Homo sapiens: one gene and its partners. The protein of the gene in region 4 purifies or fractionates together with the protein of the main gene of each other region. This does not show direct contact. Each region holds a gene or a part of one and is shown on either strand. Other genes may lie near its edges.

What was found.
Region 1: the proteins of CAPN13 (region 4) and SAFB2 purify together in Homo sapiens (affinity purification with mass spectrometry; 2 studies listed by BioGRID and IntAct, with this or other methods). This does not show direct contact.
Region 2: the proteins of CAPN13 (region 4) and ZC3H4 purify together in Homo sapiens (affinity purification with mass spectrometry; 2 studies listed by BioGRID and IntAct, with this or other methods). This does not show direct contact.
Region 3: the proteins of CAPN13 (region 4) and SFSWAP purify together in Homo sapiens (affinity purification with mass spectrometry; 2 studies listed by BioGRID and IntAct, with this or other methods). This does not show direct contact.

Annotation. Positions count from the first base shown.
Region 1 is NC_000019.10:5,605,485-5,613,417, reverse strand, and holds part of SAFB2 (scaffold attachment factor B2), read left to right. Parts: intron 1-850; coding exon 851-878; intron 879-1,787; coding exon 1,788-2,298; intron 2,299-2,729; coding exon 2,730-2,779; intron 2,780-3,322; coding exon 3,323-3,423; intron 3,424-7,933. UniProt on the Homo sapiens protein: Binds to scaffold/matrix attachment region (S/MAR) DNA. Can function as an estrogen receptor corepressor and can also inhibit cell proliferation.
Region 2 is NC_000019.10:47,110,328-47,119,079, reverse strand, and holds the start of ZC3H4 (zinc finger CCCH domain-containing protein 4), read left to right. Parts: upstream 1-5,303; 5' UTR 5,304-5,360; exon of another isoform or gene 5,361-6,366; intron 6,367-6,490; 5' UTR 6,491-6,495; coding exon 6,496-6,656; intron 6,657-6,821; exon of another isoform or gene 6,822-6,918; coding exon of another isoform or gene 6,919-6,932; intron 6,933-8,123; exon of another isoform or gene 8,124-8,147; coding exon of another isoform or gene 8,148-8,185; intron 8,186-8,205; exon of another isoform or gene 8,206-8,418; coding exon of another isoform or gene 8,419-8,441; intron 8,442-8,752. UniProt on the Homo sapiens protein: RNA-binding protein that suppresses transcription of long non-coding RNAs (lncRNAs). LncRNAs are defined as transcripts more than 200 nucleotides that are not translated into protein.
Region 3 is NC_000012.12:131,762,570-131,770,502, reverse strand, and holds part of SFSWAP (splicing factor, suppressor of white-apricot homolog), read right to left. Parts: intron 6,048-7,933; coding exon 5,817-6,047; intron 4,386-5,816; coding exon 4,195-4,385; intron 1-4,194.
Region 4 is NC_000002.12:30,721,635-30,727,743, forward strand, and holds the end of CAPN13 (calpain-13), read right to left. Parts: intron 5,746-6,109; exon of another isoform or gene 4,965-5,745; intron 3,264-4,964; exon of another isoform or gene 2,600-3,263; intron 1,603-2,599; 3' UTR 1,137-1,602; downstream 1-1,136.

The DNA of each region.
Region 1 (7,933 bases), on a different chromosome or scaffold from region 4:
TTGATTTTCCATAATGAAAGAGCAGTGTGTATGTGTATGGAAATGACTGGATACTGTGCTGGATGCTGGGGTTAAGAGGTTAGCAGAAGAGAAACAGTCTCAGGGCTGGCCATCTAGCAGGGGCAGTGGGATCAAACCAAATATGTAACCAGAAGGGAGAAAGAAGTGTGATGAGGGAGCAGTTCTGGTGGTTGGACTTCATAAGTGCCTGGAACTCTTCCCAGAGGTCTGACGGATAGGTTGAAGAGGGAAAGAAGAATTTGGAGCAGAAAGTTTGGGTGGTGTCTCTGATGCAAAAGAGAGAGGGGAGCACACAGGGTTGGATAGAAGCCAGAGGTGTTGCAGAGCAGCTGGGCCCGCCTCGCTGAGTCTGGGCCACCAGAAGGATTGGACCTATTGTCCTAAGTGAGACAGATGTCGGAAAAGGTTTTCAGCAGAGTAGAGAGATCATTTTGTTATGACAGGTTTCAGTTACAAATCAGTTTATGTTGGGAGAAGTATTTTTTTCTTAAATCCACTGTGACCTCTTCTCTGACAAAGGGGGTGTTTGCCAGCTGCAGCAGCCACTAGGTCAGCTTGGTCATGGGGTGGGTGGCATGGCAGGGCAGGGCCCAAACTCGGGAGAATGGGACAGACTGTTATCACTAGGGACCTGCTGTTACCAGGGAAACTGTTAAAATGAGCTGGTTTTCATCAGGTTATTGTAGGATGGAATACATTTTTTGGAGACAAGAAAGTTTTGTGGAAACAGGCATTTATTCACAGATGATTGAAAGCCATATTTACTGGTGAAATGTATGTGCCCCGTGTTTAAAGTGACTTGTGGATTTGCTTTTTCTTTTTTAAATAGGACATTGAAGAATCCCTTTTGGAGCCAGGTACTGATAAGAGAAACACGACAGTTATGGTTTGAAAGTTTTCACACTATTATTTTAAAGCTGTCTATATTTTAAGCTGTGTTATGATCTTGTAAATTGCTCTAATGGTGGACAATCCAGATCATACAAGGATCAGAGATTGGAAACCCATTCGTATCACCAGATCTGTGGAAGAGCCATTCTGGCTTCTTGAGGTCAAATACATTTGGTGCAATGTAGTAGTGATTCTTTTCATGTCTAACCACGTAGAGTGGCATTTAATTCCCCCGTCCCCGTGATTCCTCCATGTGTTTCTACACATGAAACAGATCTTGTGATATTTTGCTGCAGTCATTTTGATTAACGCAGTTAAGGCAGGATAAAGCTGTTGTCAGGGCACTTACCACCTGAGAAGTGACTGGATTCCAGAAGAGGAAACAGAGTTTCTCCGTGAAAATTTTCAACATATTATTCCCCTTCCGGACTGCGTTTATCTCCCACCGTCAGAAGAGATTCTGATTTTCATATTGGATTGTTCTGTTAAAAGAAATTCAAAGAAATTTGGAAGTTGAGCTGTCATTGAATGGTGATTGCATTCGGTTCAGCACCTTGGACATTGGAAAATCAGTCAGAAGACCCAGACTTGAACAAAAACTCGAAGAAGACTATTGAGAACCAGCCGCGTGGTTGTAGGTGTTTAAATCTGTGGGGGCCTTTTCTCTTCCGTGTAGCGTAGAGGCTTACCTAGAGGCGGTCGCGGCGCAGGTAGTGTAACCAGTATAACTTTGTGTACCCGCGGGTTTTCCAATCTCTGTGTAGCTAGCAGTTCTCTTCGTGTTAGTGTGGCAGCCGTGCCAGTTCCACATTTGTGATTGCTTTATTTCCCTGGTAATTAAACCTTGTGCCATTCTATTCCTGTTAAATCCGTAGAAAATGAGAAAATACTCGACATTTTGGGGGAAACTTGTAAATCTGAGCCAGTAAAAGAAGAAAGTTCCGAGCTGGAGCAGCCATTTGCACAGGACACAAGTAGCGTGGGGCCAGACAGAAAGCTTGCGGAGGAAGAGGACCTATTTGACAGCGCCCATCCGGAAGAGGGTGATTTAGATTTGGCCAGCGAGTCAACAGCACACGCTCAGTCGAGCAAGGCAGACAGCCTGTTAGCGGTAGTGAAAAGGGAGCCCGCGGAGCAGCCAGGCGATGGCGAGAGGACGGACTGTGAGCCTGTAGGGCTAGAGCCGGCAGTTGAGCAGAGTAGTGCGGCCTCCGAGCTCGCGGAGGCCTCTAGCGAGGAGCTCGCAGAAGCACCCACGGAAGCCCCAAGCCCAGAAGCCAGAGATAGCAAAGAAGACGGGAGGAAGTTTGATTTTGACGCTTGTAATGAAGTCCCTCCGGCTCCTAAAGAGTCCTCAACCAGTGAGGGCGCTGATCAGAAAATGAGGTTTGTTTTTTCTCAGTTTTAGACCAGACGCTATCTCCTTTTCATTGGTCATGTAATGACACACATAAGCTGTTTTTTTCTGCAATTGGCCAGCCAGACTGACGAAATTGTAGTTTTGCTTCTAAAGAATGTTTCGTTTCTCTTTGTGTGTTTTTAATGGGTGATTCAATTCCTTTTCTTTTTCTCAACCTACCATGGTTGTGTTCTTAAATTGTTAATTGTTATCTTCAGCTAAATCGAATTGACTTTTACAAATCTGACATTGTATTTTTGGGGTCAGATTTTCCAATATAAGCTTGCAGAGGTGTCTGTTAAAATTTTATTTCAGACTAATTTTCTGGTAGGTATTCAGTTTTAGCACATAATCATATTTTTAGTTTTGTTCTCTTTCGTTTTTTTCCTGTATGAGTAACATTAACTTTTGTCTCTAGCTCTTTTAAGGAAGAAAAAGATATAAAGCCAATCATTAAAGATGAAAAAGGTATGATTTAATTTAACGTGGTAGGGAGCCAGGTATGGTTCCCTTATTTTGGGAGGAGGGGCCTGGAGATATACACACTTTGGATTCAGTAATTTGTTTTGTTATGGGTTACCGGAATCAACCACCTAATGGTTTCTTGAGAGACTAGTTTTAGAAGTTCGCAAGCACCTGCATTTTATGTTTCTCTTGTGGTTGTCATCTATGGGATGGTGAAAAGCACATTACAAGAAAGGAATAATTCTGCTCATTGAAGACTGTTTCAAGGATTTTAGAGACTGCCGTCTTGGATGAGATCTGATCATCAAAAGACATTTCAGTTCATAACTGACATGGGCATGATTATTCCTTGAGTAAGGAAACTCAGTTTTTGCTGTCCAGATTTTCAGCCTTCTGTGTGTTGGCATGTGTGTGTGCGTTAAATTCTTAAGTCAGCAGTTGGGATTGGGCGTCGTTAGGGTTTTTAAAGAGGGCTGCGGTCTTAAGAATGGTTGTGCTTCCTGTTAGGCCTTGGGGTGATGCCTAAGAATCTCCCTCTCGTGCCAGGTCGGGTCGGCAGCGGTTCTGGTCGGAACCTGTGGGTCAGCGGGCTGTCCTCCACAACACGCGCTACGGATCTCAAGAACCTTTTCAGCAAGTATGGGAAGGTATGCCTTCCCTTGCCTCATACCATCCACTGTGATTCAGAGTTAAAAAGGAAGCTCTGCTGGGCACGGTGGTTCACGTCTATAATCCCAGCAGTTTGGGAGGCTGAGGCAGGAGGATTGCTTGAGCCCAGGAGTTCAAGACCAGCCTGGGCAACATAGCAAGATGTTGTGTTTACTAAAAAATGGAACGACAGCAGCGAAGCTCGCCCAGTCTTGTGCAGTGCACCTTGTTTCCTGACTCACAGTAACTAGGGTGCGGAGCAGGGCAGGTGGTTGGTCATATCACAACAGTGCTCAGAACAGCTGTATAAACAGCTTCTCTCTCAATGTTCTTGGGGTTCTTTCTAACTGGTCTCAAAGAGACTGGTGGTCTTTTGTCTTGTGCAAAACTTAAAGCTTACATGATGAGATTTTTCCCTTAAGAATAATTTGGGAGGCCGAGGCGGGCGTATCACCTAAAGTCAGGAGTTGGAGACCAGCCTGGCCAACATGGCGAAACCCTGTCTCTGCTAAAAATACAAAAATCAGCCAGCCGTGGTGTTCTGTGCCTGTAGTCGCAGCTACTCGGGAAGCTGAGGTGGGAGAATCACTTGAACCCAGGAGGCAGAGGTTGCAGTGAGCCAAGATTGTGCCACTGCACTCCAGCCTGGGTAACAGAGCGAGACTATGTCATAAAAAAAAAAAAAAAAAAAAAGAATGAAGTGAATAATTGACTTTCATATCATTTAGCATTTTAAGTATATAGTCTCATAACTAGAACATGATCGTGGTTCAAAAATAAATCACTAAGATGCTGCTCATGGGGGTGGGAGAAAAATAGTACAATTCAGCAGCTTTCCAAAGGAAGGTGAGGACAATTTAAAATGATTCCACTGTTTGAAATTAATTAAGAGTCTTCTTTTTTTGTTTGTTTGTTGTTCTTTTTTTTTTTTTTTTTTTTTTTGAGACTGCGTCTCGCTCTGTTGCCCAGGCTGAAGTGCAGTGGTGTGATCTTGGCTCACTGCAGCCTCCGCCTCCCTCCCAGGTTCAAGTGATTCTCGTGCCTTAGCTTCTCGAGTAGCTGGGATTACAGGCACCCACCACCATGCCTGGCTAATTTTTGTATTTTCAGTAGAGATGGGGTTTCGCCATGTTGGCCAGACTGGTCTCCAACTCCTGACCTATGTGATCTGCCTGCTTGGCCTCCCAAAATGCTGGGATTACAGGCGTGAGCCACCGCGCCTAGCCAAGAGTCTTCTGGTAAGCAATTGGCACTGCCCTGGTCTCCTGGGTGCCTCTGGGGAGTGGCTTCCAAGGGACAAGGTTCGGACCATTTAGTGTCTGGAGGGTGCCCTGATTCCAGGCAGAGTGGGCCCTGTCTGACACAGTTTTCTGGCTACAGAAGCCGTTCCTTTGTCTAGGTCTGTGTCACCCGATCAGGTGTTGGTTAATGTTTCATTGCTTAAGAAGCGGACAGGACCCGGAGAAAGCGTGCTGTTCAATTTTTCTCTGAACAGTCTGTGTGTTCAGCAAGGGCTTAGGAAATTCTTATAGCCATGAATAACCTGTTTATTCAGTTACTTTGTTGACTTCACTCGGACACTGATGATTAAGCAGAGGTAAACATACGTGGTCACTGTCATCACAGATTTTTTAGTCTGGCGGGAAAAAGACCATTTAAGAAATAAACACATATGATGTGTTGTGATGAGCGTATTAAGGAATATTAGAGCACGCCGTCAGTGTGTTGGGGAGGCCGTGTTTAGATTTGGGAGGCAGCTTCAGCAGAGCTCGCTGAAGAAGTGACATTCAGCTGAGGCGTGAGTGACAGAGTTGGCCTTACCTGTGGGGCTCAGCTCTGGACAAAAACAGAAGGACGTAGGAAGGCCAGAGGGGCAGGACACCACTCAGCTACTTGACTGAAGTATGCAGAGCCTCCAGGGCGGATGGCATAGCTCAGGGATAGGGACATACAAGCTTAGTATGGTGCCTGCTCTCATTTGGGTTTTGTCTGTCATCAGAAGAGATATACTTGTAAGGATGATTAATTTGATGGGAAGGTAGAATGGGAAGTGGCATCTGTGTTTCTCTCAGGAGAGTCTTCTGTCCCTTTGGCCCTGGACAGATTCAGGCAGAGCCTTGACTCCTCCATTTGTGTGGTCAAAACCAAGGACGTCAGATGGGAACCTCAAGCTTGTGGGTTCCACCTTGTCATTTCACAGTTGGGGCCATGAGGTCCAGAGACGGGGAATGCCTTGCTTAGGTTGATGCCCTGAGTCAGAGATAGGGCAGAGACCAGGACTCCTGTGTCCCGGGGAAATGTTTACTCTGCGCGCCAGTGGTGGTGGGCTTGGCGTTAGATCTACTGTCTTGTTCTCTATTTTCTGTTCATGTTTGTTTATTGATCTCTTTTTCCCATTTATCTGCCTTCTTGTGGGTCGAGTCCTTTTTATGACTGATGGCTTATTTGCTCTAACTCTGTGTCATTGTGGTTTACTGTAGGATTACAGTACACATCTTCCCTTACAGTCTGTCTGCAAGGGGTGCTCTGTTGGTTTCAGCGTAGTGCAAGAACTCTGTGGGAATATACTTGCATTTCCCCTCCCGTCGATCTTTGTGATGTTATTGTCATACGGTTTACTTCTCTTTAAGAAGTCACCCAATATTTTATTGGCTTTGACTTGTTGTGGTTTGGCTTTTTTGCTTTGAACAGTTGTGTTTTTTTTTGTTTTTGTTTTTGTTTTTGTTTGTTTTTGAGACGGAGTCTCGCTCTGTCGCCTAGGCTGGAGTGCAGTGGCGCGATCTCGGCTCACTGCAAGCTCTGCCTCCTGGGTTCATGCCATTCTCCTGCCTCAGCCTCCCAAGTAGCTGGAACTACAGGTGCCCGCCACCAGGCCTGGCTAATTTTTTGTATTTTAAGTAGAGATGGGGTTTCACTGTGTTAGTCAGGATGGTCTTGATCTCCTGACCTCGTGATCCTCCCACCTCGGCCTCCCAAAGTGCTGAGATTACAGGCGTGAGCCACCACGCCCAGCCAAACAGTTATATTTTAAAGAGACCCAGAAATGACAGGAAAAAATCATGTTCACCTCACCAGGTGCTCTTCGTTGCTTTTTGTTGTATATCCAAGTTCCCATCGGAGATCATCTTCCTCCCTCCTGAAGGAATTGAATGTTTCCTGTAGTGCAGGTTTGCTGGTGATACGTTCTTGTTTCTTTTGCATGTCAGAAAAAGTCTTTACTTTGTCTTCATTTTGAAATAAATTTTCACTGGGTATAGAATTCTAGGTTAATTTAATCTTTGTTCCTTCAGTTACCAATTTGTGTCTTTTCTCTCTCTTTTTCTGTGGCTGCTTTTAAGTTTCTTCTGGTTTTTTTGTTTTGTTTTGTTTTCCCTTAGAGACAGGATCTCACTGTGTCACCCAGGCTGGAGTACAGTGGTGCTCACTGCAGCCTCGAGCTCCCGGGCTCAAGCGATCCTCTCACCTCAGCCTCCTGAGTAGCTGAGACCACAGGCATGTACCACTACACCCAGCTAATTTTTAAAATTTTTGGTACAGATGTGGTTTCTCTGTGTTGCCCAGGCTGGTTTTGAACACCTGGCCTCAAGTGATCTACCTGCCTTGGCCTCACAAAGTGCTGGGATTACAGGCATGAGCCACTGTGCCCAGCCTGTGCCTGGTAATTTTTTACTGGATGTTGTGAATTGTATTTTTTGGGTGCTAGTTATACTTGTATCTCTACAAATACCCTTGAGCTTTTTTCTGGGACACAGCTGAGGTACTGGACACACACTAAGGCAGGGCCAAAGTAGCCTTCAGTTTGGGCTGATTTTGTCTCACCACTGGGCAGTGCCCTCTGAGTAGTGGGTCTGATGGCCCGTGAATTACCAGCCTTTCCACCCTGGCTATTGGGAAGAGCAAACCATTTGTGGCCCTGAGTGCCCCTCCAGTGGTTGTTCCCTCTGCTCCTGATTGTTCCCTCTGCTCCTTATGGGTGGTGCTGTCCCAGCCTCTGGTTTCCTCGCACACGTGTGCACTGGGTGGGAGGAACCCTCTGTGGGTCTCTTCAGCTTGCTCTGCGTGGCTCTGTGTGGCTGTGTCCTCTCTGATACTCAGTTCCGTGATTTCTCTCTGTCTTGGTCTCAGAATCTCAGTGCTGTCTTACCCATCCCCCATTGCCTGGGAATCTAGGCAGTGAGCAGGGGCAGTCAGGGAGCTCTCAGGGATTGTTGTCTTGGGCAGCCTGATGTCCAGGATCTGAAAACTGTCGTTGCCTACGTTTCATCACATTTGTTAGTTGTTTCAGGCAGGAAGACAATGCTTAGTTCTCCCATCTCAGCCAGAAGTGGAAGTCCTTTCCCCATGGGGACATTTCTGACAGTCCATGTCTGTGTCAGAGCTCTTCTCAGGCCCAGCTGGAGTGGATGGGTGCATTTCTTAGTAGCCCCACAGCTGTTTGTGGGCACAGTGGAAATAGAGAAAACAATGTGGATGGGTAGGACTTCTGGTTATTAGTTGTGAGTAATGAAG
Region 2 (8,752 bases), on a different chromosome or scaffold from region 4:
GGGAGGCTGAAGCAGGATAATCGCTGGAACCAGGGAGGTAGAGGTGGCAGTGGGCCAAGATTGCACCACTGCACTCCAGCCTGGGCGACAAAGCAAGACTCCGTCTCAAAATAAATAAATAAATAGGCCGGCTGGGCGCAGTGGCTCACACCTGTAATCCCAGCACTTTGGGAGGCTGAGGCGGGTGGATCACCTGAGGTCAGGAGTTCGAAATTAGCCTGGCCAACATGGTGAAACCTCAGCTCTACTAAAAATAAAAAAAATTAAAAAAAAAAATGAGCTGGGAGTGGTGGCAGGCGCCTGTAATTCTAGCTACTGGGAAAGCTGAGGCAGGAGAATCGCTTGAACCCAGGATGCAGAGGTTGCAGTGAGCCGATATTGCACCATTGCACTCGACCCTGGGCGATAGAGTGAGATTCTGTCTCAAAAAAAGTAATAAAATAAATAAAATAAATAGGCTGGGCGCGGTGGCTCACGCCTGTAATTCCAGCACTTTGGGAGGCCGAGGCGGGGCGGGTCACTTGAGGTCGGGAATTCAAGACCAGCCTGGCCAACATGGTGAAACCCCATCTCTACTAAAAATACAAAAAATTTGGCCGGGCGCAGTGGCTCACGCCTGTAATCCCAACACTTTGGGAGGCAGAGGCGGGCGGATCGTGAGGTCAGGAGATCGAGACTGTCCTGGCTAATACAGTGAAACCCCGCCTCTACTAAAAATACAAAAAATTAGCCGGGCATGGTGATGGGCACCTGTAGTCCGAGCTACTCGGGAGGCTGAAGCAGGAGAACGGCGTGAACCCGGGAGGCGGAGCTTGCAGTGAGCCGAGATTGGCGGGGCGCAGTGACTCACGCCTGTAATCCCAGTACTTTGGGAGGCCGAGGCTGGCGGATCACAAGGTCAAGAAATGAAGACCATCCTGGCCAACATGGTGAAACCCTGTCTCTACCAAAAAGACAAAAATCAGCTGGGCGTGGTGGCACGTACCTGTAGTCCCAGCTACTCAGGAGGCTGAGGCAGGAAAATCGCTTGAACCTGGGGGGCGGAGGTTGTGGTGAGCCGAGATTGTCCAGCCTGGGCAACAAGAGTGAAACTCGGTCTCAAAAAAAAAAAAAAAAATTAGCTAGGCATTGTGCATGCCTGTAATCCCAGCTACTCCGGAGGCTGAGACAGCAGAATCGCTTGAACCTGGGAGGCGGAGGTTGCAGTGAGCCGAGATTGCACCACTGCACTCCAGCCTGGGAGACAGAGCGAGACTCTGTCTCAAAAACTAAAAAACTTGGCAGGGCACGGTGGGTCACACCTGTAATCCCAGCACTTTGGGAGGTCCAGGCAGGTGGATATAACCTGAGGTCAGGAGTTCTCGACCAGCCTGGACAACACGGTGAAACCCCATCTCTACTAAAATACAAAAAATTAGACAGGTGTGGTGGCGTGCGCGTGTAGTCCCAGCTACTCGGAAGGCTGAGGCAGGAAAATTGCTTGAATCTGGGAGGCAGAGGTTGCAGTGAGCCAAGATTACGACACTGCACTCCAGCCTGGGAGACACAGCGAGACTCTGTCTCAAAAACTAACTAAACAGGCAGGGCACGGTGGCTCACACCTGTAATCCCAGCACTTTGGGAGGCCGAGGCGAGCGAATCACAAGGTCACGAGTGTGAGACTGCAGGGCCAACATGGTGAAACCCCGTCTCTACTAAAAACACAAAAAATTAGTTGGGCATGGTGGTGGGCGCCTGTAATCCCAGCTACTTGGGAGGCTGAGGCAGGAGAATCACTTGAACCCTGGAGGCAGAGGTTGCAGTGAGCCGAGATTGTGCCACTGCTCTCCAGCCCGTGTGACAGTACGAGGCTCTGTCTCAAAAAAATAAAAATAAATAAATAAATAAATAAAAATAAAAAAGTCAGATGAAGTGTCAGAAGGGCTTGGCAGACAATGTTCCACAATGTTCCATCATGACACTGAAGAAGTACAGGGAATTCCTGCTTGGTGGGATTTTTGTTTTCCCCATTACTTAAAAGCAGATGGCCATCTAGAATTGTAGAATGGCCCCATTGAAACTACAGAGATGGGGCCCCTTCAGGACCATACCTTGAAAAGACAATGGCTGTCCTCTTAGATGTGGTCTATGTTCTCAATCAGTGATTTTGTCCATAACCCAGAATACATGAGGTCCAAAAATCAAGGTGTAAAGGAAGGAATGGCACCATCCACAATCGAACATAGTGAGCTACTTTGGTGTCCTTCCTTTCCATTCCTACAAACCTGAAGTATTAGTTCTTGGTGTGTTAAAGAAAACTTTTTGGACAACATAGCTATGAGCATGAGTGAACATTTTATTACAATCTTACATGCAAGGAAAAAAGGTCTCTTGTTGGCCAATTAAGATTCACTCTAATAGGGACATTTTATAGGAGAAGAGAATAATTATCTAACCATTAGATCTGAGATTGGATCCAGAAAGACGATAGTCAGGGTAAAGGTAACACAATTCTTGGCTGGCAACTGGGGTACCAGGTGGGATGGTGGGGGGAGCACCAGCTTCTTAAAACAAGTTTCATCCACTGATGATTTATTTTAAGCATTTTGTCAGGAATTTTCTTCTCGCTGTGTCACCCAGGCTCTAGTGTAGTGGTGTGAGCTCGGCTCCCTGCAACCTCTGTCTCCTGGGTTCAAGCGATTCTCCTGCCTCAGCCTCCTGAGTAGCTGAGACTACAAGCAACTGCCACCACACCCGGCTAATTTTTTTTGTATTTTTAGTAGAGACAGGGTTTCACCACGTTGGCCAGGCTGCTCCTGACCTCGTGATCCACCTGCCTAGAGTTCTCAAAGTGCTGGGATCACAGGCGTGAGCCACTGTGCCTGGCCTTATTTTTATTTTTATTTATTTATTTTTTTTGAGACAAAGTCTCCACTGGAGTACAGTGGCATGATTATAGCTCACTGTAGCTTCAACCTCCTTCAACCTCCTGGGCTCCAGTGATTCTCCTGCCTCAGCCTCCCAAGTAGCTGGGGCCACAGGTGCATAGCATGAAGCCGGGCTAATGTTATGACTTCTTTTTTTTTTTTTTTGAGACGGAGTCTCGCTCTGTTGCCCAGGCTGGAGTGCAGTGGGGCTATCTGCAAGCTCCACCTCCCGGGTTCAAACCATTCTCCTGCCTCAGCCTCCCGAGTAGCTGGGACTACAGGCGCCCGCCACTATGCCCGGCTCATTTTTTGTATTTTTAGTAGAGACGGGGTTTCACTGGGTTAGCCAGGATGGTCTCGATCTCCTGTCCTCGTGATCTGCCCGCCTCGGCCTCCCAAAGTGCTGGGATTACAGGCGTGAGCCACTGCGCCCGGCCATGTTTTGACTTTTTGAAGAAACTGGGGTCTCACGATGTTGCCCAGGCTGGTCTTGAACCTCTGGGCTCAAGCAATCCTCCTGTGCTAGAATTATAGGCATGAGCCACTGTGCCGGCTGCAACATTTAATTTAATTAAAGTCTTTCTGTCACTCAGGCTGGAGTGCATGATCTTAGCTCACTGCAACCTCTGCCTCCCGGATTCAAGCGATTCTCCCCTCAGCTTCCCGAGTAACTGGTGATTACAGGTGCCGGCCACCACGCTTGGCTAATTTTTTTTTTTTTTTTTTTTTTTTTTTGAGACGGAGTCTTGCTCTGTCATCCAGGCTGGAGTGCAGTGGTGCCATCTTGGCTCACTGCAACCTCCACCCCCTAGGTTCAAGCGATTCTTCTGCCTCAGTCTCCCAAGTAGCTGGGATTACAGGCGCGCCACACCATGCCTGGCTAATTTTTTGTCTTTTTAGTAGAGACGGGGTTTCGTCACGTTGGCCAGGCTGATCTCAAACTCCTGACCTCAAGTGATCCGCCAGCCTCGGCCTCCCAAAGTGTTGGGATTATGGGTGTGTGCCACCACGCCCCGCTGCCAGCTGGAACATTTAAAAAACAGTAGGATCCGCTGGGCGCGGTGGCTGACGCCCGTAATCCCAGCACTTTGAGAGGCCGAGGCGGGCGGATCACGAGGTCAGGAGATCAAGACCATCCTGGCTAACGCGGTGAAACGCCGTCTCTACTAAAAATACAAAAAATCAGCTGGGCGTGGTGGCGGGCGCCTGTAGTCCCAGCTACTTGGGAGGCTGAGGCAGGAGAATGGCGTGAACCCGGGAGGCGGAGCTTGCAGTGAGCCGAGATCCGCGCCACTGCACTCCAGCCTGGGCGACAGAGCGAGACTCTGCCTCAAAAAAAAAAAAAAAAAAGTAGGATCAATATACCAGGAAGTCACATGGTGCCTCTGTCTCCAGATTTATCACTGTTGACACGGTTTTTCTCTCTTCCTGGAATCTAAGTGGTCTTTGCTTTGTCAGGGCCTGAAATAAGGTATTTCTTTTCTTTTTTTTTTGAGACAAGAGTCTCACTCTGTTGCCCAGGCTGGAGTGCAGTGGCATAATCTCGGCTCACTGCAGCCTCGCGACCTCCCGGGATCGGGCGATTCTCCCTCTTCAACATCCCGAGCAGCTGGGACTACAGGTGTGAGCCATCATGTCCTGCTAATTTTTGTATTTTTAGTAGAGAAGGGGTTTTACCATGTTCGTCAGGCTGGTCTCCAACCCGAGCTCAAGCGATCCGCCCGCCCCGGCATCCCAAAGTGCTAGGATTACAGGCGTGAGCAACATCGCCCCGCCTGAAATAAGGTATTTCTTCTGCCTGGAACCATCTCTTCTTTTTCATGTACCAGCCTAAAAGAACAATTACAAGACCCTCCTCTAACACTCCACCCACCCCCTTTATTCTTTAACTCTGTTTCTCTCCCTTGGGGCATTATCGGTTAAGTTCCATGAAGACAGAAACTGTTCCCATGCTCCATCACAGGGACTGGCACTGTAGAAAGAGCTAACAAGTATTTAAGGAAGATCCCTGGATTCGAGGTTACAGTGAGGTATGATCGTGTCACAGCACTGCAGTCTGGGCGACAGAGCAAGACTCTGTCTCTTAAAAAAAAAATCTTGCTGTGCTTTTTAGAACTAATCCTATGACCGTGAACCGATTACTTAAAACACCGAACTTCAGTCTGCAAATGGGAATAGCAGCAGCTTATGTTAGGACGGTTATGAGGGTCAAAAGATTTTGTTTGTACAGTCTACGACACCGGCCAGTGTTTCTAGCTCTGCTATTTGAGAGCCTTCCATGGGTCCTACACCCCAGGTCCTTAAACTCCCCTGAGGGACTACCAAGCCCCGCCCCTCTCGCATCCAATGATGACATCATCGACTGGGTTGTCGAGTGACGTCACCTCCGGGCTGGCTGGGCTTCATCGCTTCTCCGGAAACCTCCGACTCTCGGCACCTGGCCTCCAGCTTTCGGTTATTTTTTTTTTCCCTCTCCGTAGCCTGAATTCCTTCCCTCCCATTCTCCCACCTAAAACTATTGGCTCTTCCCGCCTTCCTTCAAACTAGCAATTTTCGGTTTTTCCCTCTTGCTCTCCGGCGAATTCCTGAAAGTCGTTTATTCTCCCCTTCAGCCCCGCCCGTTCAGCTCATTCTCTTAATCGCATTACCCTGGCTGCTTTTCTTTCGGCTGTTTCCACCTCCTGCCACCCACCCGGACACCGCTTTCGGCTCTTTCCGGACCGTCTCAGTTTCTCCTCCTTCCCCGGTCCCGATCGGCTTAGGCTATTTATGGCTCCCCTAGGTTTCTCATGCTCTCTCTAGCCCCACCCATATCACCACCTTCAGCTCTTTCTGGCTCTCCCCCGTCGCCTCCTCGCTCCTGCTCAGCTCCTTTCGGCTATTTCCGCCTCCCCTCGGCCTCGCCCTTTGCCTTCGGCTCTTTCCGCCGGCCTTCGGGCAAGCGGTCTCTACCCCTCTCCTGCACGTGACACGGCCTCCGCCTCCGCCTCTCAGTTCCCCCTCCCATCTCACCCTTCCTCCCGCCTCAGCCTCTAGGCTGGTTCGGGCCGAGCCGCCATTTTGTGTCAATTCCTGATTGCGGCGGGGGCCGGGCAGCCGGGGCACCCAGGGCGGGCAGAGAAGGGAGACAGTCGGCCCGTCTCCGCGGCCCGTTCCCTCTCTCCCTCAAATCCTTTTTTTCTTTTTAACCCCCCACCCCCCTCGCTCGCTCTCCTCTTCTCCCCTTACCCTTCGCTTGCTCCATCGCGCGCGGCCCGCGCTAATTACACCCAACCACCCACCAGTGTCCGTGTCTCCCGGGTGTCCCGCCCCCCGGGGGTGCGTGGGGGGGGGGCTCTCGCCCCTATGAGGGCCCCGCGCCAGTGAGCGAGTGACCGCAAGGGTGGGCTGCGGAGAAAGCAGGCGGCGAGCGGCCCTCCGAGGCCTAGGCCGTGCGGCCTACGCGGAGGTCAGCGCAGAGGTGATTCCGAAACCGAAAAAATATATACCCCATTCCCATCAGGAGCCCTCCGAGCTTAAGTGTGCCCCTCCCGCCACGCCCAAGCAGTCCTTTTTCGTGCATTAACATCCCCTCCCCCCCAAAGGAACTATGGAGGCCGCGCCCGGGACCCCCCCGCCGCCGCCATCAGAGTCGCCGCCGCCGCCATCGCCGCCGCCGCCATCAACGCCTTCGCCTCCTCCGTGTTCCCCCGACGCCCGCCCGGCCACCCCGCACCTCCTCCACCACCGCCTCCCGCTCCCTGACGACAGGTCAGGCCCCCGGTTGGGCCGGGGCTGCGTCCCCGGGGGGAGGAAGAGGAGGAGGAGGAAGGGGGGCGGCCGCCATGTTGGGCCGGGCCGCGGAGGAGGAGGAGGAGGAGGAGGAGGAGGAAGGGCGGGGTCGGTGGGTGTCTCTCGATCGCTTGCTCGCTCGCTCTTTCTCGCTTGCTTTCTCTCCCGGCCTCATGCGTTTCCCCCCCCTCGCGGCGCTCGCCCGCTCTCCCTCGCTCTCGCTCTGTCTTTTTTGGGCGCCATGCTGAGGGGAAGGTGAGGAGGCGCCCCTCGGACCCCCCGCGCCCGTCCGCCTGTCCTGGGGAGGGGGCGCCGTGGGGGGTGCTGCGGAGACCCACGGGGGTCCTGGCTGCCCCTGCGCCCGGAGCTGGCAGCTACGGGCCCGCTTGCCCGTCGCCTGGCTTCGGGGAAGGGGATGGGGGAGGGGCTCCGGACCCTTTTTGGGGGGATCTCGAACAACAGCCCCGCTCTTAGGGGTTTGGGGTTGGGGGTCTCCCAGCCCCCGGCAGTATCCTTTCTCCTGGGGGAGGCACACCCTGTCCTACTTGGATGATAGGTACTTTAGCTTAGGAGGCAGAAGGTGGGGGTTCATTCAGGTCCCTTCTCCATCCTTGTAATTGGGGGTCATTTGGGTGGGTGCTCTATAGCACTTGTATTTTTTGGCGGGGGGTGTTTTTTAGCTATCCCCTAGAAGGCCGAATTGGGGAGGGGGGAGATGCATCTCCAGCCCTTTTGATGAAAACCCCAGCCTATTTTTTTAGAGAAGACTCTTCCCCGTGTTTTTGCTAAAGGGCAGGGGTCCTCTCGCTTTTCGTAGGTAGGTGACGTGAGGGAGGATTCTCAGCCTTGTTTTGCGGGGGTAAGGTTTGGTTTCCCTGCCTTGTAGGGAGAGGAAGTTGGTCCCGCGCTTTCTCCTGGGGTTCCCCCCTCTGTCGGGGTAAAATGGGGCACCGTCTCTTCCGGGAGAGAAAAGGAGATTTCCTTGTGCTTTGGCAGGGCGTTAAAGGAAGCGCCCCCTTCTCTTTATTAAGTCCGAAACGCGGGCCCCCCACGCCCTTCTCTGGCTGGCGGGTGATAATGGGGTCAGCCCGGCGCGTTTCAGGGCGAGGTTGGGGCCCCGTTTCCTTCCCCTGCTCGAGCAGAAGGAGTTGGGGTGCAGGGTTCGCCCACTGTTTCCTGGTGGGGCGAGAGAAGAGGCGGCTGGAGAGTAGGTTTGGACACGGACGGTGGGTTTCAGCCGGCAGGAAAGCGAGTCTTGGAGGGAATGGGGGTGGAGAGGGGAAGAGAACGCTCTGGACAGATGGCTACTCCGTCGCAGCCCTGGCTGGGGAGCCGCTGAGGACCCTTCCTTAGCCGGGGGGTCTCAGCCAGGGCTTCCCTTGCCAGGCTGTACGTACGACCCCTTCTCCCCACTCCCACCTCCCCTTTCCCCTTTCTCCTTCACAGACCATACTTTGCCTTTTAAAAGAAATGCCACCCACATTCAGAGACACAAGTGCAGCAGTTTGGTGAGCTTTTACAACATTTTTTTTTTCTGTTTTGTTCTAATTAAATGTATCGTCCTGGGAATCGCAGCCCATCGCAGCCCGACTCCAGTTCAAGGAAATAAACAGATTAGCAAAGGTCTGTTCGCTAAGCCCTCGTTGGGCTTCCGGGCCCCCTCTCCGGGGGCAGGTGCATTACTCAAAGGTGCTTACACGCTTTATTCGACCTCTAAGGAGTTCTCTTATGTCAGAAGTGTATGTCTTACAATGGGTTGGGATGGTAAGTAGCCTCTTTTATTGAGTAATTCAATGATCTCCCTCTTTTTCTCCCTTTACTGCCTGCCTTCCTCCTCGCCTTTAGACCAAAGTGATGCTTGAGAGTGAATTGATATGTTCGAATCAGGATTCTAACCCTGTTGAGCCCTTTTAGACTTGCACATCCTTTCAATGTTTAATTTTTAAAATTTGACGTACACAGTTTTCTCAGAAAAAAAAGTGTGTTACTGTAACATGACAAAAATCGATGTAAAAGGCCCGTATGTTTTCAGACCCTTGGCATCCTTCTTTCCATTTCAATCCATTGCTTTGTCT
Region 3 (7,933 bases), on a different chromosome or scaffold from region 4:
CAGGCACATAAGCTGCACTGTGGCTGTTTTCAGTTAACTTTAAGGTGACAGCAAAATTCCTGCCATGTTATGCCAGGCCTTGTGTAAGGGAGTGTCCTCATGCCACCCTGCAGAGCCAGCCCGAGCTAGCCACGGCCCCGACAGACCTGGGGGTGCCATGAGCCTCCTGGTGCCGACGTGCCCTCAGCCACGCAGGCTTCCTCACCCAGGGCGTGCGGTGGCCGAATGTGGTCTTGTCTCAAGTCCTCCTGGACTCCGAGAATTTCACAACTACATAGCTGGGTCAAATGTCTCAACATCAGCGAGTAAAGCAGATGCTAGAATACTTAGTAAAGTCAAGGGTAACCTGTCCCAGAAGTTGTTTTAGGCTAAAAATATTTTCGAGTTTGAATTTTCTTTATGGCAATTGCCAATTTAATTACAAGTATTTTTGTTTCAGAAGCAATTAAAGACATTTATCATCATCTGCTACAACCATTACATTTTTGTTGAAATGGCTTGGTAGCTGTAATCTGCATACACAGACACACACATATATCCAGGGAGAGCATCCTAGTGATTTAAACGCTCATTTCTATGTTCTACAGATTCAAAAACCAATGCCTGCAAACAGGAGAGGTGAGAGGGTACGTGTAAAAATAAATAGGACAGATTGAGACCATCTTGGCTAACATGGTGAAACCCCGTCTCTACTAAAAATACAAAAAAATTAGCCGGGCGTGGTGGCGGGTGCCTGTAGTCCCAGCTACTCGGGAGGCTGAGGCAGGAGAATGGTGTGAACCCGGGAGGCGGAGGTTGCAGTGAGCCAAGACTGCGCCACTGCACTCCAGCCTGGGCGAGAGAGCAAGACTCTGTCTCAAAAAACAAACAAATAAATAAATAAATAAAATAAAATAAATAAATAGGACACAGACCTAAGCTGTAACATATCTTATGTTTATAAGGAAATAATTCTGGTTGCTGTGATGCGGAACTACAGCAGATTGGGAAAAACTGGGCTAGTGATAAATTATACTTGTGACTGAGTTTCACTGGAAATTTTATGACGACATACACGTATAGTCATGTAATGTAACTGGTTAAAGCATTCCTGTGAATGTCTTTCAATTAACCCCTTTACCCGCTGCACAAACGATATCAAAACATGAGAACCCGTACGCCACTGTAACAGGTCCCTTACTTTCTTAAATTCCCTTCCCTCCTTGCTACATGCATATTTTCATGGCTGTAACCACAGAAGTGGATATATTTTATACTGTGCTTCTCCTGCTTATTACATCAGAAGCATTTTCTGTGTGGCTACAAGCGTCCTCATGATCATTTTTGTTGTTGTGTATTTCATCCCCTTATTGCTGCAGAACATCCTTTTTTTTTTTGAGAAGGAGTCTCGCTCTGTCGCCCAGGCTGGAGTACAGTGGTGCAGTCTTGGCTCACTGCAACCTCTGCCTGCCAGGTTCAAGAGATTCTCCTGCCTCAGCCTCCCGAGTAGCTGGGATTACAGGCATGCTCCACCACGCTCGGCTAATTTTTTGTATTTTTAGTAGAGACGAGGTTTCACCATGTTGACCCCAGACTGATCTCGAACTCCTGGCCTCAAGCGATCCACCCGCCTTGGCCTCCCAAAGTGTTCGGATTACAGGTATGAGCCACCACGTCCAGCCAAGAAATCCTATTAAAGCTAAGGAATGACCACAGATCCTTCGGCCATAACTGGCTGAAGTGAGGAGCCAGGAGGCAGCCCCGACTCTGAAGAGCTGTGGAAAGGCTGTGAGACGGCGTCCCGGGGGGCTGCTGGGGGTTCCCACCTTGCCTGAAAATGTTCGTTTCTGGGGCTGGCATGTCAAATGGCTCAGAGGAGCTGAGGCTACAGCGGGTGGCCAGAGCACTCGGGACTCAGGGCAGGAGCCCACCCTGCGGCACTCGGGGACTCGACAGGGTCTCACACAAACTCATCTTCTCTGCTCTTCTAATTCTCCCCTCCTTGCCCGTCAGTTATTATTTCTGAGGCCTCCTGCCAGATGTGAGAGGATTTCAGACTGACTCCCAAAACAAGAAAGCTGATTCAGCCTTCAGCATCATTTGAAAAGTCTGAGCTTAGAATGTTGTTTTCCACAGAAAAATAAGCGAAGTGACTTCAAGCAGAAAATCAGTTTTCAATAATGGCCCTGGACTCTTAGAAACGTCAATATAATTAAAGTGAAAGGCTCATTCTGTACTTTGGGAAAAAAAGATCTACAAAAGACACGTGGGGCCACTTGGAGCAACGTGGCTGCGGCCTGCAGAGGAAGTGATGGACACCATCGGTGGACAATCTGCATGCAGTGCTGTGTTTCCCAGGAGAAGGCCCTTCATGGGAAATGCAGCTGCAGTATTCAGGGCAGAGCAGTCACCACATATGCAACGACTCTCAGAGAGGGCGAGCACGCGTGGGTCAACGTGCGCACATATAGATGAGCGAGCACGCGCATGCAATCGCCTGGGGTGCTGGGGGCATCTTCCCATTCTTTCCAATTTTTTGAAGGTTTGAAACTTTTCAAAAAGTAAAATTCCCGGAGTTACTACCTTTTTTATTCTTTCCAACTTTTATTTCTTTCATCACCCAGGCAGTGAGCATAGTAGCTAACAGGGAGGTTTTTGATCTTCACCCTCCTCCCTCCCTCCCTCCACCCTCAATGAAGCCCTCGAGTCTGCTGTTCTCTTCTCTGTGTCCATGTGTGCTCAATGTTTAGCTCCCACTTATAAGCGAGAACATGTGGTGTCTGATTTTCTGTTCCTGTGTTCATTCATTTTTTTAAAGAGAGAGATTAGGTTGAGAAAGATTTTATAAAATGATTTTTAAGTGTTCTTGAAATAACATAAAACCACAACTTTTTAGCTATTGTCTAATTGTAGATGTAAACCCATTCTAATATTATAGTTCAAATGTTGTCAGCTTTTAATTCACCTACAATTACAGGACTAGCTACTAAAATGCCCAGTTTTGTCACAGTTTATTGATACAAAGACAACCCTCCTTTAATCCTCAAAGGATGTGTCCTACTCTATTATTTTTCTTACTTTAAGAGTTATGTCTCCAAAATGCTCCTAAACTCCCCAAAGAATTTCTGCATATTCTTGTAGTTTAAATACAAAATAAAATTCAGAGACATAACTACTATAAAGAATCTAAAATTAAACTTAAAAGATTCTAAATTGATGTGACAAAAAAAAAAGTAGAGTTTTTGCTGATTATGATTAATTGCTGTGCTGCTGCTGCGGAAGGCATGTGTTTCCTGAAGGCCTCTGGTCTCGGACACGCATGGGAGCAATCCCCTTGGCACAGGAGCCAGTGTCTACTGAAGGCCTCTGGTCTCGGACACGCATGGGAGCAATCCCCTTGGCACAGGAGCCAGTGTCTACTGAAGGCCTCTGGTCTCGGACACGCATGGGAGCAATCCCCTTGGCACAGGAGCCAGTGTCTACTGAAGGCCTCTGGTCTCGGACACGCATGGGAGCAATCCCCTTGGCACAGGAGCCAGTGTCTACTGAAGGCCTCTGGTCTCGGACACACAAGGGAGCAATCCCCTTGGCACTCAGGAGCCAGTGTCTACTGAAGGCCTCTGGTCTGAGGCACTGTTCTGAGCACCCCCTCCTTGGCAGGGAGACTTGTAAGGCAGCCACGTGATGACCCCCATGTAAGGCCCTATTCCTGCTCACACCACTGAGGAAGGAGCCATGTACTCCTGGAGTCTGTTCTCTTAACTCCCTCTTCCTTTTTCTCTTTAATTAAAGTGCTGACATTGATACAGACCGTGGCAAAAGGATTTCTGCCCCACGTGTGAGCGCAATACTGGTGCTGCTGCGGAGGCGGGGCTTCAGTGAAGTGTGTCCACCACATTTCCCCAGCAGGACCCATGGGAGGCACTCCCCAAGCCCTCCTGCCAGCCCCATAAGGGCAGCCGTGAAGCAGAGGCTCCCCTGAAATCGCGGGCAGTGTTTGCTGCTGGCGTGACTGTGCACTGACGGGGGAGACTGCTGGCAAACTCTTAGATTCACTGCTATAGAGTAAAAGCCACTCAACCATGTCGGGAGGAAGAGCTGGGAGCTCATATCCCTCACTCAGGCCAGAGACTAGGGCAGCTGGAGGGAGACACATCCTCCCTGCCTCTATGTATCACACAGCCCCGCAGATACCAATGTGGGATTTTACTATACCTCGACACTGAAAGGACTCTCCTCAATTTTCCCAGCTTCTGCTTCCGGCAGAGGATTTTTGAGGGTCTGTAAAAATAACGCCGCTTTCCTTTTACGTTCTGCTTGAAGCTGTTTCTCTTTTGACTCCTTAGACGCCTGGGCCAGCTTTTCCCGGGCAGCAGCTGCGAGGCGATCTTCCAGCTTTTGCTTTGCTTAAGGAATAAACAAAGAAAAAAGAGAAGTTTAGAGCAAACAGTATTTTATCTGATCTTAATTTTCACAGGTTGCAAAAGTGTCATACAATGCAGTTAGTTAAAGTTTCTGAATAGGTACATACATTGGACAAATCAAATTTTGAGAGAATTAGTTTATAACGTGCCCTTTTTTGGACATTTTACTTTCAGAGTTAGAAGGTTGGTGAGACTCTACACTAACGAAAGCTGGAATAATGAAAACCTCAGAGTGGCTCTCAGCATATATCCAAAATATTCACACCAGGCAATGAATACTCTATAAGTGTTTTATTCCAAATGATCCGACAGTTGGTTAGTTTACACACAGGAAGGACAGATTCAGATGTACAGGCATGAGTACAAGTTTGCTTAGGGAGAACACCACAGCACAATGGAAGTTCTTGATGGTGGATTGTGGTTGAAAAATGGCTTTTTTTTTTTTTCTTTGAGACGGAGTTTTTGCTCTTGTTGCCCAGGCTGTAGTGCAATGGCGTGATCTCAGCTCACTGCAACCTCTGCCTCCCGGGTTCAAGCGATTCTCCTGCCTCAGCCTCCCAAGTAGCTGGGATTACAGGCGTGTGCCACCACGCCCGGCTAATTTTGTTTTTTCAGTAGAGATGGGGTCTCACCATGTTGGCCAGGCTGGTTTCTAACTTCTGACCTCAGGTGATCCACCCACCTTAGCCTCCCAAAGTGCTGGGATTACAGGCATGAGCTACCGCGCCTGGCCTGAAAATTGGCCTCTTTCAAATGTTGCTTGATCTGAATGTGTGTATACAGGAAAAGCAATTTAAGAAAATCAGTTAGAATAGATAACAACCACAATGCAGCAACCATTATTTGACTGCTTTAATGCAGAGCAGAATTTATTCTGGAGTCGGGATGGGAAGACTACATGCTGTCCCCATGCTGCCAGCAGTGTTGGGGTGGGTGTGGTGGCCACACTGCGGCCCATGAAGATGAGCCGCAGCCGGAAAACCAGCTGGGGACACACCACCTTCAAGGGCCCAATGGTTCTGTGGGTAGGCAGCCTCACAAGAGGGCATCTCCTAGTTTGGTTCCTGAGCTGGGAAGACAGGCTGAGCCTTTTACCCTGGGGCTGCCAGCCAAGTGCAAAGTGAGCTGCCATTAATGCATTCCACTGTGGCGCATTAGAGCTAAGACGGCCAACTCAGTTTCTTCGAAAACAAACTGCCAGCGGCACTGCATTTGAGGCTCAGTGAAGAGCAGAGCTCATTCCTCTAAAAGAGAACGTTTCAAAACCTCAGACATGTTACACAACTCCCAAATAGGTCGATTTCCAAAGGCTTCAGATTCTAGTTGGCAGCCTCGAGATTTTTTGGCTTAGCAGATAAATCTTATATTTGTGTATTTCCTTTCTTTCAAGAAGTTTAAAAGCTATCAACAAACCTTGCTTTGCTTCTAGCTCCTCCTGGGTAAGTTGAGGCTTCTTCTCCTCAACAACTACACAGGGTGGGGCAACTGCTGGGTTAGTGTTTGCAGCACTACTAGAACTTTCTTGGCCTTCTTTGCTTTCTTCATCATCATCACTGTCATCATCTAGCTTAACACGATTTTTTTCCAGGGGAAGCAGATCATTTTCTTTGGCCTTGATTGCAAAGCTTATTGGAGCAAAGGAAGCTATTGAGGAAAGGTGAGAATTATGATACATGTTACAGAGTGGAAATCTTTGCAGGCCCTGCTACCCACCTGAGCATCGGCTGCTGGGAAGGGGATGACTAGCATGGAGCCACATCATATGCAGGGTCTACGGTGGGGGACGCCGTGCCGTCAGAGCAGACCTGTGCAGATGTGCACTGCATGGCGTGGGGCTGGGGTGAGCCCCTGAACCATGCTGTGAGAACCGCACTGACTGGGGACTTCATGGCAAGGGCACACTCGCTGATGCCAGGGCAGTCACCTGCAATTTTAAATGGCCAATTCTTGTCATTTTTCTTTTCTTTTCTTTTTGAGATGGAGTCTCGCTCTGTCGCCCAGGCTGGAGTGCAGTGGCACGATCTCGGCTCACTGCAACCTCTGCCTCCTAGGTTCAAGCGATTCTCCTGCCTCAGCCTCCTGAGTAGCTGGGAGTACAGGCGCCCGCTGCCATGCCTGGCTAAATTTTTCTATTTTTAGTAGAGATGGGGTTTCACCATGTTAGCCAGGATGGTCTTGATCTCCTGACCTCGTGATCCGCCTGCCTCGGCCTCCCAAAGTGCTGGGATTATAGACGTGAGCCACTGTGCCCGGCCTCATTTTTCTTTAAAAAAAAAAAAAAAAATTCATGGCTCAGCATATATCTAAATTTGCTTCAGGAGGCATATGATGTGACTCCACTATAAACAGGTCTCTTTAAAAAATTCCCCATGATAAAAAATAGCCTTTTCTTACAAAGCAAAAATTACAGAATCCATGCCTTTATTCAGCAAACATTTTTACCTACTTTGTGACAGGCATTATGTTAGACCATTTTCCACACCTGTAAGAAAATGTCAAACCCAGCGTGACAGAAGTTTAGAAGCAATCCCTCCTCTTAGAATATCCAGAAGGCTTAAATTTAAGGGAAATATGGAGGCCCTAAAGAAAAAATCATCTTTCCCGCCCCACCACTCAATGAACACAGAGTCCCTTTCTCTTTCAGATGCTGTGATAAATGGCTCTTGACAAGAGCTAACTGGTTGCAATAAGATACAGTATTTTAAAAAACCATCAGTTGTTATTTATGAAGAATATTCAAGGCACCCACAATGAAGGGGATGCTAAGTGCACCGCAAACCAGGTGACTGAGAGGGAAGTGGGTTCTGGGTAAACAAGGCCGCTTCTGGAAGGGCTGCAACTTATGTTTGTGATGCCACCTCTGTAGCACAGGGTGGGCTACCTGGCTGGCCCCTGGCGGAGGTCCTTCCGCTTTAGCATTTTATGGCTCCAAACCCGCGTGTGATGTGAAGTAGACAGTTAAGCATGTGATAGCCCAGACCCTCTGAAATATAACCACTTTTCATCAACAACTGCCTCAGGGGACAGGGCACACACAAAGATACTGATACCGGGACAGCAGTATTTTATAACATCAAAATAAAAAGCAGCAGGGCCGGCAGCTGAAGCCAGATGATGAGCACGTGTGTGGGGCGTGAGTGGTCATTATGTGATATTCTGTTTTCGTACATGTTTGAGATTTTCCATAAGAAAAAAAAAATTGGCCGGGTGCAGTGGCTTACGCCTGTAATCCCAGCACTTTGGGAGGCCAAGGCAGGTAGATCACAAGATCAGGAGTTCAAGACCAGCAGGGCCAACACGGTGAAACCCTGTCTCTACTAAAAATACACAAATTAGCTGGGTGTGGTGGCGGGCGCCTGTAATCGCAGCTACTTGGGAGGCTGAGACAGGGGAATCACTTGAACCCGGGAGGCAGAGGCAGAGGTTACAGTGGGCTGAGATCACGCCACTGCACTACTCCAGCCTGGGTGACAGAGTGAGATTCTATCTCAAAAAAAACAAAAAACAAAACAAAACAAACAAGGGGCTGG
Region 4 (6,109 bases):
TTCTGAGCCTTCAGAGCCCCAGCATGACAGGGAGAATCAGTTTTTCAATCAAGCAATTGAGGACCCTGCCCCTTTAAATCCTGTTAAAGAGAAAATTAATGACTGGTCCCTGAGCAAAGCCCTGTGAGGGAAGAAATTGCCCTGTATCCTGAGAACACCAGTCCAGCCTGTGCAGACCCCTGGGGCTGCTCACCACTGACCCTAGGCCTGCAGAATCATCCATTTCTGCTTGTCCTCCAGGGTGCAAGCAGGCCCAAAAGGAGCTTGGAATGACATGTGGTTGTGGCAGCAAATTGTGCAGGTGGGCTGGACTTTCTACCTGGATGCCTGGGTGAAGGTCATCTTTGAATCCTGCAGGAAATGGCTTATTCATTCTTATGGATTTTCCCACTTATCAGAGTCTCTGTTGACCTGCCAGCCCCAGTTTTTTTGCATGCAGAAAATCTTATGCAACAGGGCAGTCTGACAGCCTAGGATTCAGGATCTTTAGATATTAGCTTTAACTCCAAAGTCCATGCTCACAAACATGGGCATCTATCCTGGCTAACCAAGCAGGGGACTGGGAGGCAAAGTGACCTGTCCCAAACTTTGCTGTGTGTCTGACCCTCTCGCTATTCAAAAGCATTAGCAAGAGGGGTTCAACTCCTTAGGCAGGTAGCTATTCTACTTGAAATGACTGTGGAGGCTTTACAACAGTCCCTGTGGATGAGGTCACTTGGGCCTGTTTGGTACTTGTATACAGCATGCCATCACTGCCGAGCACTGCCCTTGCTCCTGGCATGGGTGTGTGTGTGATGATGCAGCCCTGTCCACACCATCCTGTCCTCCGACCGTGCCACTCAGAAAGTCACACTCAGCAAGCTTCCCACCTTCCTGTCCTTTTGACACACCCATTTGCAACGATTCCCCTACTGGGTTGATGCATCCAGAAATGAGCTTTCCAACTGCAAATTCTTCTGAGCGGGATCTGGCCCAGTTATGCTGTGGAATCTCTTCCATCCTCTGTGGGCCTCACCTTTTTGAGACACCCAGTGACCGCACCATGGATGAGGAGAGAGTGAGGGAAGCGTCTGCCTTGCTGGGTACTTTTCCTCTTCCCCAAATGTATTTTTAAGACAGAATATGAATGAGAGACCTTTATGGGAAACATGTTTTATTTTTGCCATTTAGCTGTGAAATCATCAGGATCCAGACATAAGATAGTGTAATTATTCTGCAAACACCCAGTGGACAGCTCTTGTGTCACCCATAGCACCCGAGGGTGGTCAAAGTGGCTCATTCTGGCTCTTCCAAGAAATGAATCCAACTGGTGACAGGGGACTCAGAGACAACTTCTCTTCTCCTTTCCCACAGGGAGACATCTCCTGCTTCCTTTTCCAGGGCAACGTAGGCTGAATACATCCCAAAGTGCTCAGATGAGCTGCTTGGTGGCCACAGGCTTAACTGGGCCTGGGCCAGCCAAGGACCGAACCCAGGCTGTTGGGAGACAGCTTGGACTCTGTTTCATGCAGGGCTGGTTTAGATTTATCACAACCACCATACTGGGCAGCACAGCCTCTTAGAATGAGAGCCAGATTCTTGAGTGATCACTGGGAGCTTGTCCTAGAGAAAGACACGGGGGTGCAAATGCAGAGGGCCAAGGGTGAGTAAAGAAACTCCTTCCTTTGAGTGACCATGGAAGTGGGGCCCCATTCCAAAGATGCTGTTCTGGATCATCCCACAGTAAAGGAAGCACTGGCACTTCCTGCTGGCAAGGCTGACAGACCCCAACGTGCCCATGGCCCCTTAATGGATGACCCTACCCCATTCTTCAAAATTCCTTAAAGGGCACCCCCCCACCTGTCCTGCCCCAAGCTTGAGTTCATATCATAGCCCATTTTAGCACCTTGAGGGCTGGCACTGGAGTGGAGGGAAACTTGGGGGAGAGATGTTCCTCCCATCTCCAGGCAGGTTAGAAGGGCTGAGGCCAGGGGCTGCTATAGTAACAACAGCCCTGAGCTCTGTCCCATCCAAGCTCCAGATGGCTAGCTTTGGACTTCTGCAGAGGAGTGGTTTTTCTCAAGTGCAGGGGGCTTGGAATAAAGTGACATTCGTGCATAGTCATGTTTTCTGCAATAATCAGCCAGCTGCCCTACCCATGGGGTAAAGAGGCCTCAACTCTTCTTCCCTGCCTCCCTCCACCTCTCTTGTCTCTCAGACTACTTGCTAGTTTGCCTATTTTTTTTTCCATGAAAACTCAGTCCAAGATACATGGTTAGAAAATTCAAAGAGTACTACAAGGCACGAAGGAAAAATAGCAGGTTCTTGTCCCATTTCTATCCAAATTCCCCTCCCTAAACTCTTTCTTCTGATGTTTACCTCCATATTTCTAGGTAATGTGCTTATGCAGTTAATTCTTGATTTGTCAATTTTAAATGCCTATTGACTTCTTATGATGCAAGATGGGGTGGGGTTGCTTCTAACCCCCTTTCATGTCTACATCTTCCCTCCTTCTGATATATTTATGTCACATTTTTGTTAAATCAATATTCCATTTGTATTTTATTACAATTATATATGTACTGTTCACTGCTGAGTGAAAAAATACTCTAGGATCACATTTTCTCTCTTCTGTAACTCTTTATTCTTCCAGGAGTTAATAACTACCTCACTTTTTTGTCTGCTTAGTTTAAGTCATTATCCTACTAATTCTTCCAAAGCTCTCCAGCAGAATTTCAAAATCCCTCTGAACATTATTTTTTCTATAATTAAGCAATCTGATCAAAAATTGCTCCCATTTTCCCCAAAGGCCACCCCTCCAGCTCCTCTCGGAATGGCTCACTCTCTTGCTCTGCTGCATAGCGCTGGTCCTTGGACTTCCCTGTCTCTGTCTAGTGTTGGATCTTCTGTTTCCCGGATTCCAACTCTTCCTCCTCCTTGGTTTATGCCCTTGGAGTGTACATGTCGGTTTCCCAGTTGGATACATTTTTCTTCCAAAGCCAGCTCCAGAAGGCTGGACACCCTGGCATCTCAAGGTGCCTGGTAACCACCAGGTGTATGCTTGCCAATGGTGTTGAGTGTTTTCACATCACCAGAGGCACATCCAGACTCACAACTCTCAACTCAGAAGTATAGGAGAGTTTAACTTGAACTCTGACAGTTCCATCTGCCCTGGGGTGTCAGTCTTCAACCGAACATCTAGCCAGGTCTCTCGAAAAGAATTTCTTTTGATGAACAGAATGAGATTGGAGAGATGGATTTACTGGGCTAGAAGTAGACTCATCCTGCAGAAAATGGTTGTTGGTCTCAGTAAGACCAGGGCCACTGTTGTCATATTTCACCTAAATCCTGCAGAATAGGAGAAGGTGGCCCTTTCCTCAAGAAACTGTATTTTTATACAGTGGGAAATTGTTATAAATGACAATTTTGTTAGAATAAGGCATTTTACTGGCATATTGATAGATCAACATGGATGTAGATGACATTAGCTAGACAAACTCTCAGCAGGGTGTGATTTGCCGTGTATTAAACCTCTAGACTCTGAAATCAATTAAAATCAATACAGCCTCAAGTGTCCAAGGAGCACAGAGCAATGAGTTAAGTGTTAGCATTCTTTCAAGTATGAACTTTATATTTAAACATATTTTAACATATTTTAACATAGGTATTGCCTGCAATGTGACAACAAGGCATACACTTTGTTTAAAAGAAATATATATGATGGGAAGAGAGGAAGAGGAGTTCATCCCAGTTGCATATACCTATATCCCAATCTGCTAGGTCAGAGGAGAGCAGATGGGTTGAAGATGAGCCAGAGAGAGGAACAGAAGTATTCTTACAACAAAAGTATACCTCAACTTGCCCGGTGAGTCCAAGGGCAGATAAAAGACCTCTTGTACACAGTTTTGTAGGGAGTGACCTGGAAACCAAGTAGACTGGTGATGGAGCTCCAATAACCCTCATCTCTGGGAGAAGCTCGCTTAACTCAGGACAAAGACTTTGCTCGCTCCAGGGACACTTTGTAACACGGAGGATCAAGTGAGCAAGGAGAGGGACTTCTCTGGATCGAATCCTGGCTAACGATAAAAGTCTCTTTGCTGACCTCAGAGTGTTGGAACTCCTAGAAGAAACTTTGTAATAGCAAAGTAAGGGAATATTGGATAGAGTTGAAGTGACCAGGACACTTTCAACTTTTTCAAAAAAGTGAGGGAAATTTTCAAATTTTTCAAAAAAGTGAGGGAAAAATAGGCCTTCATAAGATAATATGGGTCATGATGTATTAGAGATAATAACAAGATAATATTAACTACCTGCCTTCCAGTACACCAAAGGGGAAGAAAATAGAGAATAGCTAAAATAGCAGGAAGACTAGGATGTAAGCTAATACTAACAAATGCTAGGATGAGAACAAAACAAAGGAAGGTATAAACCTGAAAGAATGATTTATTTCGGTTATTTGGGAGAAAGTTACCAACTAGTTTCTCCAGGGTAGGTGTTTCGCTTTGTGCTAAGGAAATAGCAACAAACAAGACATACCCAGGCTTATAGTCTAGCAGAGAATACTGACATCAAGCAAGTAATGAAAAGTGTGTTAACTCAGCCAGCTACAAATAGAAGTGAACTTCCTCAACCTGGCAAATGGTATCTATGAAAAACTCACAGTGATCATCATATTTAATGGCAAAGGATTGGGTGTTTTCCCCCAAGATCAGGAACACAAGGTTGTCTGCTTTGTACACTTCTATTCGGCATTGTATTAGAGGTTCTAGCCAGACAATTAGGCAAGAAAAAGAAATAAAAAGCCTCTATATTGGAGTGGAAAAATAAAACTTTATTGCAGATTACATGACTTTTGAATATATAAAATTCTAAGGAAGCCCTTTAAAAATATTGGAACTAATAAACAAGTTTAGCAAGGTTGCAGGATATAAGATCAATATAAAAATAATTTTTATTGCTGTACACTAGCAATGAAAATCTGAAAATAATATTAACAATTTTATTTAAAATTGCATCCCAAACTACAATAGTTAGGAATAAATTTAACAAGGAAAGTGTAAGACTTCTACACTGAAAACTGTAAATCATTGTTCAAAAAAATTAAAGAAGATATAGAAAAATGAAGAGACGCATGGAACAAAAGATTTTATATTGTGAAGATGGCAATATTCCCCAGATTGACCTTTAGATTTAATGTAATCTCTATCAAAATCCCAGAAGCTGATAAATTGATTCTAAAATTTATATGTAAATGCAAGGAACCCAGAAGAGCCAAAATAGTCTTGAAAAGTAAAATAAAGTTGGAAAACTCACACTTCCTAATTTCAAAAGTTACTATAAAATTGTAGCAATCAACAAAGTGTGATACTGGCATAAGATACACACATAAATCAATTGAACAGAAAGGAACGTCCATAAATACATTCTTATATTAAATTGATTTTTGAAAAGGGTTCCAAGACAAAGAAACAGGAGAATGAATAGTTTTTTCAGCAACTGGTGCTGGGACAAATGAATGAATGCAAAAGAATGAAATTAGAACGTTACTTCACACCATATAAAAAATGATCTCAAAATGGATCAAAGACCTAAATGTAAGAGCTAAACTATAAAACAGAATAAATAGTTTGACCTTGGGTTGGGCAATGATTTCTCAGCTATACCACCAAAAATATGTGACAAAAGAAAACAATAGATAAATTAGACTCCATCAAAATTAAAGACTCATATGCTACAGATGATGGCATCAAAAACTGCAAAGACAACCTGCAGAAGGGGAGAAAAATTTTGCAAATCACATATATAAGGAATTCGTATCTACAATATACAAAGAACATCTATAACTCCTCTGTAGTAAAAATATAAGTAACCCAGCTTAAAAATGGACAAAGAACTAAATGAACATTTCGCCGAAGATATAAAATAACCCACAAGCACTGAAAAGATGCTCAAAATCATTAGTCATCATGAAAATGCAAATCAAAACCACAGTGAGATATCACTTCACACTCCCTAGGATTGCTATAAAAGACAGACAATGACAAGGGTTGCTGAGGATGTGGAGAAAATGGAATTCTCATTTGCAGCTGGTGGGAATGTAAAATGGTGTAGCTGCTTTGGAAAACAGTTT